Homo sapiens: one gene and its partners. The gene in region 3 interacts genetically with the main gene of each other region. Each region holds a gene or a part of one and is shown on either strand. Other genes may lie near its edges.

Evidence for each region.
Region 1: changes in SAP18 (region 3) and LTN1 together harm fitness more than expected from each alone (negative genetic interaction), as found in Homo sapiens cells (one large-scale study listed by BioGRID).
Region 2: of SAP18 (region 3) and GLI3, changing one enhances a phenotype caused by changing the other (phenotypic enhancement), as found in Homo sapiens cells (one study listed by BioGRID).

The regions. Positions count from the first base shown.
Region 1 is NC_000021.9:28,944,275-28,947,930, reverse strand, and holds part of LTN1 (E3 ubiquitin-protein ligase listerin), read left to right. Parts: intron 1-324; coding exon 325-467; intron 468-1,643; coding exon 1,644-1,779; intron 1,780-1,979; coding exon 1,980-2,124; intron 2,125-3,334; coding exon 3,335-3,548; intron 3,549-3,656.
Region 2 is NC_000007.14:42,227,061-42,230,716, forward strand, and holds part of GLI3 (transcriptional activator GLI3), read right to left. Parts: exon of another isoform or gene 591-3,656; intron 1-590. UniProt on the Homo sapiens protein: Has a dual function as a transcriptional activator and a repressor of the sonic hedgehog (Shh) pathway, and plays a role in limb development.
Region 3 is NC_000013.11:21,146,283-21,149,678, forward strand, and holds the end of SAP18 (histone deacetylase complex subunit SAP18), read left to right. Parts: intron 1-522; coding exon 523-645; intron 646-903; coding exon 904-1,060; 3' UTR 1,061-2,815; downstream 2,816-3,396. UniProt on the Homo sapiens protein: Component of the SIN3-repressing complex. Enhances the ability of SIN3-HDAC1-mediated transcriptional repression. When tethered to the promoter, it can direct the formation of a repressive complex to core histone proteins.

The DNA of each region.
Region 1 (3,656 bases), on a different chromosome or scaffold from region 3:
ATTAGCCACCGCACCCCGCAATTGACTCTTTTTTTTTTTTAAAAGAGGACATAATGTCATGTGGCTAGTATAATTTTAAAAAATCATATATGGGGAAAAGTTATATATGCTCATTTAAAAAATTTATGCAGAAAAGAGAAAAGGAGCAAAAAAAACCAATTTCATCAAGTCAGCACTTGTTAAATCTATCATAGTTTCTTTTTATGTAATTATATGTGATAGAATTATTCATCTATCTTTTTCAGTAGTCTAAATAAAAGAAATATATAAAATAACTGTATGTTTGGAAGAAATCTAACTTGTGTTTTTTTTTTCTTTAAACAGTTTTTTTCCACTAACTGAAGGCAATTTGCATACCATTCAAAGTCTATGTCCATTTTTGTCAAAAGAAGAAAAGAAAGAATTTAGTGCTCAATGTATACCTGCTCTTTTGGGCTGGACTAAGAAAGATCTTTGCAGCACTAATGGTTAGTTGCTTGATAATAAATATTTCATTAATTTAATTATTGCTTGAGATGAAGAACTGTTTCTAATATATAAGACCACATCTAGCAGAGGTAAATTGAATTACAGCTGATTTGTTCTGAGATTATATGGATGAGTGTTGTTAGACAGTGGCTGTTACCATTTTACAGTACAAAAATGCTGGGCCTTAAGGGAAGACTTACGCCCAGAAATACCTTCTAACCATTTCTTTTCTATCTATAGCTTTTTAAAGCTGTGCCTCATTTCTCCCTAGCCAATCAATGATTGAACATATAAAGGCAAAAATAGCGTCTGTTGTATTTAAAACACTGCACTTTTCATTTGTTTATTAATTTAATAAACATTTATGAGCACCTGCTACATGGTAGTTCCTATTGTAGAGAAGACAAACATAAAGTTGTATTATGTGATAACCGATGTAGCAAAAAGATGTGCTATGTATAGAAGTGGCAGAAAGGAAGGAGTTTCCACTCTGCTTTGAGGGTGTTAGTGGCAATTTCACAAAGAGAAATATTTCTACTGGGTGTTGAAGGATAAATAGTTTTCCATATGGACATAGTTGGGGAAGGGCATTCCAGGTACACAAAAACATACAAGGGTACAGATTGTTCATTTTGGCTGGTATGTAAGATAGAAGGTTGGGGACAGAGGGTGTTAAGATACACCAGTGGATGGATTTTGAGGAATGGTAGAGATTCTAAAGAGTGAGTCCACATCAGAGTTTACCACATGTACTAGCTGCTATTGAGTGAATGAATGTATAAATTATGAAACAGTATGTTCTATTTTCCATTTGCTGTTTCCAGCTACTCTGTAGCTGTAGGGTTTTTTTTATTTGAATGATGAGTTTGCTGAATATGTCCTGCACTTAAGAAACCAAAACAAAAACAGCATAAGTCAGTTTAAATTACAGCATCATTCACTCTTTCTCCTCCCCCAAATTCTCTATTGTGTGCTAGGTGCTGGGTTTGGAGACAGGGTCTCTGCCCTTTGGAGCTTATAAGCTCATTTGTTGACTCTTAGATAAAAGTCATTATTAGAGTTCTTAACCTGAACACTTCTCAAGAAAGTCTTTTACTTCTCAAAGTGGACTTTTTTTTAATAGTAGCGATATAGTTCTTAAATATTTTTAATTTTCATTTTGAATTTTACTTTAGGAGGTTTTGGACATCTTGCCATTTTCAATTCTTGTCTGCAAACCAAAAGTATAGATGATGGAGAGCTATTACATGGAATATTAAAAATCATAATATCCTGGAAGAAAGAGCATGAAGATATTTTTCTTTTCAGTTGGTAGGTGATACTTTATACTATGTTTTTCCTTCAGTATACAATTCAGACAAAGATTACGTATCTGTGTCACAATTTTGTAGAGAAATTATGGTAGACATTTAAGTCAGTTATAAATAAGTATGTAAGATTTAAAGTAGCATACTTTCTAATTGAATGTCAATATAATCTTTTATTGTCTTTTGTTTTTATCTTTATCACAGTAATCTATCAGAAGCAAGTCCAGAGGTACTGGGTGTAAATATAGAAATAATCCGGTTTCTTTCCCTATTTCTGAAATACTGCTCATCCCCTTTGGCAGAGAGTGAGTGGGACTTCATCATGTGCTCCATGTTGGCTTGGTTGGAGGTAAATTAACCCGATATGTCATCACCTCTTGTGGGTTTTTGTACATACTTTTGCATCAGAACTATTTACTAATCTCATTCTTTAAGTGATGATTGTAATTGGTTCCTTTGTATAATTTAAAACACTTTATAGATGTTCTTCTTACCAGCTACTATTTGACAGAATAGTAAAATGATAGATTTTTAATGACTACCAGCATCATTCAGTGACCAAATCTCCTGTTATTAAAATGCCTTCTCCATTAGCTTATTGTAATATTTGCAGCACAGCCCTTTCAGGTTTTATCTGTTAATGACAATTATTTTGGTCTTTTTTGGTTATAATTAGATTATTTCTAAAACATACTGTGTGAATATTGTGAGAGTAATGCATTAAATAGTAGCAGATTCAGAGGGAATTAGTGTAATTTTTGACCCAAAGCAACCAGAGGTATATTACTTGTGGGCTCCAAGGCAGCAAGTCAGTCAGGGTTGGATTGGTCTGAATCTCTGCTTTGCCTGCTATTAGCTATGTGACTTAGAGTTTTAAACTTAAACTATTTGAGACTCAGTTTTCTTTCTTTCTTTCTTTCTTTTTTTTTAAATTTGAGATAGAATCTCGCTCTGTTGCTTAGGCTGGAGTGCAATGGTGCGATCTTGGCTCACTGCAACCTCCGCCTTCTGGGTTCAAGCAATTCTTGTGCCTCAGCCTCTCAAATAGCAGGATTACAGATGCCCACCAGCATGCACGACTAATTTTTATATTTTTGGTAGAGATGCGGTTTCACCATTTTGGCCAGGCTGGTCTCAAACTCCTGCCCTCATGTGATCCACTTGCCTCAGCCTCCCAAAGTGTTGGGATTACAGGCATGAGCCACTGTGCCTGGCCGATTTTCTTATTTTAAAATAATAACTTACAACTTGTAGGGCTACTGAGAAGATTATAAATGTGTATTTAATGTGTCTGACTTAGTGTTTCCTTCCATGGGTTAGAAATTAAAAAGGGTACTTGAGAATAAATTGTTTATTAATGATTCTATTCATGGTATTTAATTTTGAAGAAAAAAGTTATTTTGATGTAAAATTTTATGTTTCTCCTGAGATTACACACCTCAACTGCTTTTCGTTTTAAAATTCAAAGAAATGAAAGTGGGGCTTTTCTTTATATTGGCTTTATTTGTAGTGTTCTGGTAGAAGTCTGTTTACCTATTTCATTTTTATTGTTTTTTCAGACAACAAGTGAGAATCAGGCATTGTATTCTATTCCACTTGTGCAACTGTTTGCCTGTGTCAGCTGTGATTTGGCCTGTGACCTCAGTGCTTTCTTTGATTCCACAACTCTGGATACCATTGGCAATCTTCCTGTAAATCTAATCAGTGAATGGAAAGAATTTTTTTCCCAAGGCATCCACAGTTTGCTTTTACCTATTTTGGTGACTGTTACAGGCAAGTGAAAAAGGGAATAATAGTGAGATTGATTCATTGGAAATGACTTACTGAAAAATTCAAAAGCAAAAATTTTGATGTTTAAATCAAATAATACTAAATAGTAAA
Region 2 (3,656 bases), on a different chromosome or scaffold from region 3:
TAAGCATCAAGGGAAAACGTTAAGTTCTGCTTCACTTCAAAGACTTTTCCCTGAGGAAAACATGCCACTGTTTTTCAGATGTGAATGAAATGATACTTTTTCCCCCGACATAGTTTCCTTGCTTACGACTCCACACTGTTCTCCTTCAATCCCTTTCACCACTGAAACATTACATGCAAGATTTGCTGGCATGCCCCTTGACTTTTCATGCTTAAGGGGAAAAATGTTTGTAGCTGATGTTTGAGTCCCAGGAGCTCGGTGAAGAAAAAAAAAAAAAGCAACGCAAGGAAAATTGCTCTAATGGTATATCCTTCCTAAAGCTTGAAGTTTCATAGGTAAAAGGAGGGATAAACATTCCTTCCTGAAAGCAAACAGTCAAGGCTTTTTCCCACTCAACTATCCCTGAACCTTTTGTAATTTCCCCGAGGCCTAAACCCAGGGCACAATTAATTCCAGACCCTATTTTAAATCTAATCCGTCTCCTATTTGCAACCTGCCTGCAGGTGGGTCTTTTCTTTCTAAATTATAAATCTGAACCTGCGTCAACCTCTTACAACACAAGGCATTTAAAGCTTCCTGGAGCCACTGACCTGGTGACGCTGTAGTGCACGTCTGCATTTGAAAGTAAGCAAGAGAACAGAAAGCGAGCAAGAGAACCGCAACCTTTACCACCTTGGCGAATTCTTGCCGGGACCTACATATTAAACAGCACTTGCACACAGACGCCTCAAGTCGTCCTCTTTAGAGTCGTCACTTAGACCTGCAAGGGGCGGGGGACCAGTGGAAACCCAAACAGAAACTTTCACCATTACAAAGGCGAGTCCCCATTGATTATGGTAATTGTTTTGCTCAGGTTGTACGGGTATGGCCAATTTTGTTTGAAAGCTCGCTCTTTCTCTGCGCTTTCCTGTCGAGTTCCCTTCAGGTTCTGGTTTCCTCCGACGGTGGCAAGGGATGTTTTTCACGCCTTTCACCACTTTTGCCCGCGCCTGCGTCCCCTGCCCGAGGTCCCAGGCCGCGGCGGCGGCGCGGTGGGTTCATTAGCGGGCGCGCCGGGCCCGCGCAGCGCTGTCTGCAGCCGCGTCGCCGCATCCATCATCATTACATCAGCGCGGGGAAGTCCACGCCGAGTTCTCCCGGCCCCGGCGCGCCCCAGTCAGCGCGCCAGCAAACAGAACATGCTGGATTGCTCAGAGACGGCTCTGGGTGTCTGGGGGCAGAAGGGGTGCTCCCAGGCCCGGCTTTGATCCGCATTTCTGAAGCTGGCTTTGGGAGACAATGCATCTCCGCCAGCCAGGCCGCGGGAAAAGTGAAAAAAGGGCTGGGGGCCATGTGGGGGTGGGGAGGTGAGCTCCAGCGCCAGCAGCGCCTGGCAGTCTCCCTCCAGTGCAGAGAAGCGGTCTGTATCAAGGCGTATCAGAGTGGTCACCCTGCTCCTCGGAATATTCACGGGCATTTGCAAACTCTACAGTTGGCCCAGCCAAATTTCCAGCAAACACTGGCAAGGGCCGGCCCTGGTTGCGTTCAGAGGGCTCTTTTAACTGGCTGAATTCAGGGAGCTGCAACCTTCCAGGTACTTTGCAATGCAACCACCCTGAGTGTCGCATTATAATAAAACATTGGGGATCCCTTGAAAAGCCTTCACAAAACCAATAGGTGTGTGCTTCGCTCACAAAACGTCGAATTCACCTTCTATGAACCTGGCCCCCAATGTGTTTTTCTTCATTAGCTGCCATACATAGATTCAAGTGCTGTGAATGGCTAAGACAGACACATCGCCTCATTGTCTTGAGCTCAGGGAGGCCCTGAGTGGAGTCCCAATGTTCAACCTCAACAACCAGAGGCTTTCTGTAGTAAATAGAAAATATGAAAAGTCACAAGTGTGGGAACGTGAGAAAAAATTAGCTTTTCTCCTTTCAAGTCTCTGCAGTGAAACCTCTAACCCCCATGGGAGCAGGATTCCTTTATCGTTTAAACACTAAAATGTTTAAAAATAAAGCACCCATGCCAAAGCCAACGTTTAAAATGATGTTTGAAGTGAATAAAACAACTTTCTAATGTAGGGTGAAGTCGAACAGCATCCTTCAATCATGATAGTGCATCCTCCCTGAACAGCAGACTACTTCATTTATTTCCCTAAGCCAGTTGGTTTAAGTTGCCTAAACTTGGGCAAAAACTCTCTTCTCTTTTTTTTCTTAGTGTATTTCAAGATTTAAAACAACTAAGTTAAAAGCCTATTTAATGATAACCCGATCTGTTTCTGATAGGTTAAAACAGCTACTGGCAATAAGAGATCAGAAACAGAAGACATTCCAGGCGAGGCAGTGCTATTAACAGCACCATGGCTCAGCCTTAAGTGAGAAATTATTCCGTGTAGTTTAGGGAACTATTACTCCAGTGGAAGAAGGTTTTCCTCCAGAGAAATAACATTTATTTACACCTGCCTGTATTTTCATAAGCTGAATAATCTTGATTTGCTGTTTTAAATATCCAGAAGAAAGCAGCTTGTCATAAGGATTTTTGAGGCAACCTACCCTGTAGCACTGAAGAGTGACATTGCTCTCATACTTATATTACTAGTAGATCAACTGCTACTTCAAGATGCTACTCCCGGATTAACCATCCAGGTAAAACTACTATTAAAGATATGTACCTCCCTGTAGCTATTTAATAACCCATTTCTCAAAAATAAATAAATCCTTTAGAAAGAGAATTTTTTTTTCAGAATCAAGAAGTACAAACTAATGTTGATTTGAACTTTTTGATCAATTCTGGAAGTGAGAAATAGTCTGAGTTTCAATGAGCAAAATGCAGGGAATTTTAAACATTTCATTGGATTTCATGTATTCATGCACCACAGAAAACCTCTTATAGGTTTTTAATGTGGTTGATGTTTCCTTGTGTTCAAAATATCTTCTGAGGGCAAAATCAATTAGATATGCATAACCTTTGTGACACTCTAGCAGTTCCCAGGATTCCTAAGGCTTCATTTCCTCTCCCTTCCCTGTCTGTGTTGCCTTTTTCTGCAAGGGTTGGGCGGGGGGGGGGGGGGTGGAAAGCCCAACTTCATAAGTTCTTAATGAAATCTTCATTAATTTTTAACCATTTTTTCATGTATAATTATTTTACCTGTATATATGATTATTTTTCCATAATCAGGAAAGCCTAGAATCTTAACTCCAAATAGGAAAGCTTCTATCTGTCCGCTTTGCCATTTGGTAGCTCAGGGTTCCCCAAATCCACTGCCTAGTGTCTTCAATCTTTCTTTCCTACATTTCTGATGCTCCTAATCACAGATAAGCAGTATTCATGACAGACATACCCAAATGGAATTACTCCAAGGGGAACTAAATTACTCTAAGGGGAAATAATTGCCTGGCTATGGATTAAGTGAATTTGGTTTTGGTAAATTAACACTATCTAAACTTTTAAGAAATCCATATATTTAACTTCAACCACTGAAAAGCTTATTTGACATGAAAGTAATCATTGCTACTGCAGTTAAAATCACAAACAACATTTCTGTGAGCCAGTTTTACTTTTCTGCCATTTGTATTTAAAAGAAAAGATCATCAGCTACTCTTCCCCTGTTGCCAGAAGTACTTGATGAGAAACATTTGAGGGGAGTATGAGGTCTCCATCTAATACTTGTTACC
Region 3 (3,396 bases):
GTTGCAGTGAGCTGAGGTCACGCCACTGCACTCTAGCCTGGGCGACAGAGCGAGACTCTCTCAAAAACAAAACGTCAGTATGAAAATGCTTTCCTAGTACATTGATTCTAAGATACATTCCAATTTCAGAGATGCTAAAATGTGGAAGGGTACATGTCTTAGAACTAATGGGATACATCTATTTTGCATATTTGGATTTATTTGGACTAGTTACCCTTAGGTAAATCACTAGGCCATAAGGTGTTGTGTAGCAACAGAAGATAGCATATAGAATCTCTGAAGTCCCTTTTAGCACTAAGAGTCTAATTAATTGAAATTTCCAGCAGTAAGGCTGGTACATGGAGTTTTTGGAGGCAAATAGTATTTTTAGCTGCTTTAAAATTAATCTCTAGTATAAGACCCTGGCAGTTTCTAATGTAAATCACAACTCAGATATATGTAATTAACTCATTGTTAGTATCCCTTTTAATATTATTGCTGATTAATAAGCAAATGTAAATGTCTTTTTTAAAAAAAATCCAGGATGGATGCAACCTTGAAAGAACTGACAAGCTTAGTAAAAGAAGTCTACCCAGAAGCTAGAAAGAAGGGCACTCACTTCAATTTTGCAATCGTTTTTACAGATGTTAAAAGACCTGGCTATCGGTAGGTAACTTCTCATTTTTAAGTCCTGTAATCTCTTTGTTTTTAGTATGTTTTAACTGATACAGATAACTCCTTCAATGAATCTTGTTAGTGGGAGAATATGGGTTTATATTAATACGTGGTTTGGCTTAATAAAGTAGTTAAATTTTGGAAGTGTGTTATAAAATGATGGAGAAAATCCAGTGCCATATTCACTTTGTAGTACATACTGGGTTTCATTGATTTGGATCCATTAACAGTTGATTTTCTTTCTTACAGAGTTAAGGAGATTGGCAGCACCATGTCTGGCAGAAAGGGGACTGATGATTCCATGACCCTGCAGTCGCAGAAGTTCCAGATAGGAGATTACTTGGACATAGCAATTACCCCTCCAAATCGGGCACCACCTCCTTCAGGGCGCATGAGACCATATTAAATTCTATTTACTATTTGTTGAATTTATTTTTCCGTCAGTTATGTAAAATAAACATACTCTTCTTCCTCCCCTGATTATTGCCATTAAGCCTTTAAATTCTAAACAAATTATAATGCATCATCTATTTAGGAGTTAGATTTGGATGTGCTATTGTATGATTACGAATAGTCTGTATGTTTCAAGCCCTTCTGTAAAATATGAAGAAAAGTGCTCTTAGCATTCTGTGTAAAACTGTACTGTTAAATATATGTGTGTAATCAGCCTGAGTGTGAAAGTTAATGGAGGCCTGGGAACAGGGTTTATACTAAGTAGTGGAGGAGCGTATGGTTAAGCCCAAAGGGGCAGAACAAGAAAGCCACGGGATTGTATGAAATCAAACATGAGTTTGTGGTGTAGACTGCTGTATGCAGTTGGAAAGGACACGTGAGAGTGAGCTCAAGTGGCAGCAGAGGCAGTTTGGAATAAGCTGCGGCAAGTTGAAGAAGCTGTGTTGGACGAGATTGCCCCGCCTTGATCAGGGTACCATGACATAAAAGGTTAAAGAACAGGCAACACAATGAGCACTTAAGTTTTTAACATGTGGGGAATAGGGCATTTTAAAGGCTGGAACCAGTTCAGAGGAAACAAGGGTTTGGGTAGAGGTAGAAAGGTTTAATTAACCCTGGAGATCTGCAAATGGAGGGAGGGGTGAAGGAGGAATCTTAAGACCGAGGGAGAAGAGCCAAGGACAAGGTCAGGTTGAATGAGTAGGAGGTGTTCACACATCCTCTTGTGTGCTAGGTAGTGGCGTGCATCTGATCTGAGAGGCAGTAAAGCAGTGATGAAGACAGTGCAGCAGAACATTGAAGTCCTGATTGCAGCAGTGACTCTGCAACCTTGGATAAATTATTTCAATCTTTATTTTGTAAAACGGAGATAACGGCCTATAGGATTGTTAAGACTGAATATTTTAAAAGAGCTTAGAATGGTGCCTGACAAATGAGAAACAATAAATACTGATTATTGGCCATAAAGTGGTATTAAAACTGGATCTCTTTTCTTCCATGGCACTACTCTCATTTTGAAGTTTATGAACAGTACGACAGTGTATTGTAAATTCCCTTTAGTTTGTTACAGTAGCCAATTGAAAATGTATATCCCAAAATTTAAAAAAAAAAGTACCAGCAGCAATAAAATTGCACTAGTTTTATCTGGTACATACAAAAACAGCCATTTAAAATCTGATGATTCTGTGGAATTGGTGTCCCTGTTAGCAATGGCAGAGACCAGCCTGGAGCCTAGATCTGGTGCTTCTTCTGTGCTGTGGTTTACCCCAAACCTTTAGGTTGTTTATTCATTCAGATTAGATAGACTGGAGCCATAAAGTTAATTTGCACCTAGCTTTTTGGAGAATAGCCATGATTAACTGCTATTCGTGGTGGGGGTGGGGGGGAACCCTATGATTTACTATGCAGATGAAGAGGGTAGGAACTAAATAAAGGACTTTGTAAGCCAAAGTGGTTGGGCTGCTTTGTCAAATTCCACCCTTTGCTTGGTTCCAACATGGAATTTCTCCTTTAAAGATTTCAATATCCCATCAAAAGTACAGTTAGAGAATACCTAGTGAATTTATTGAATATAATGCTAAGAATCAAAAGACTTGTACTAGTTTACCTCTGGCTTTGGTAAGTGTGGCTTTGAGTAATAACTGAGCTGTTTCCCCGCATATAAAATAGAAATAAATAAGTAGTCATCATGACAGCATCTTGCTCAGTGCTTTAGTGTCTGCCCTGGTTGCCTCATTTGCTCCTAGGTATTTTGGAATTGACGTTTTCCCTTTGGAATATGTGTTACAGTACATGATATTGCCTATAATGTCTTTTTAGTTTTTCACGGTGTACAAAAACTGGGACGGTTATGCCCAGCTGATCATTGACTCAGGTAATGTTTTAGGTATCGGTTGTATGCATGTGAGGGGCAGGTGTGAATGTAGAAAGAAACATTATTAGGCTAGGTTTAAAATTCTCTAAAGTTGAACATAATAAGGAGCTGAACTTGATGCACCTCTTTCTTGTTCAATTAAACACATTTCAGACTTGTTTTTGTGAAATAGAAGGCAACACTCTAAATCAAGTTTGTAACTATGATTTAAGTGTTTACTTGTGCCAAACACAGATGGTTCCCAAGTTATGATAGTTCAACTTTAGATTTTTCAGCTTTGCAGTGGCGCATAAGCGATAAGCCATTCACTACGGTCCTCAGCTTATTATGGGGCTACATCCCAATAAACCAGCTGCCAACTGAACATCTTATAAGTAGAAAGGGCACTTCTGACTTAGGATATTTTCAACTCATGA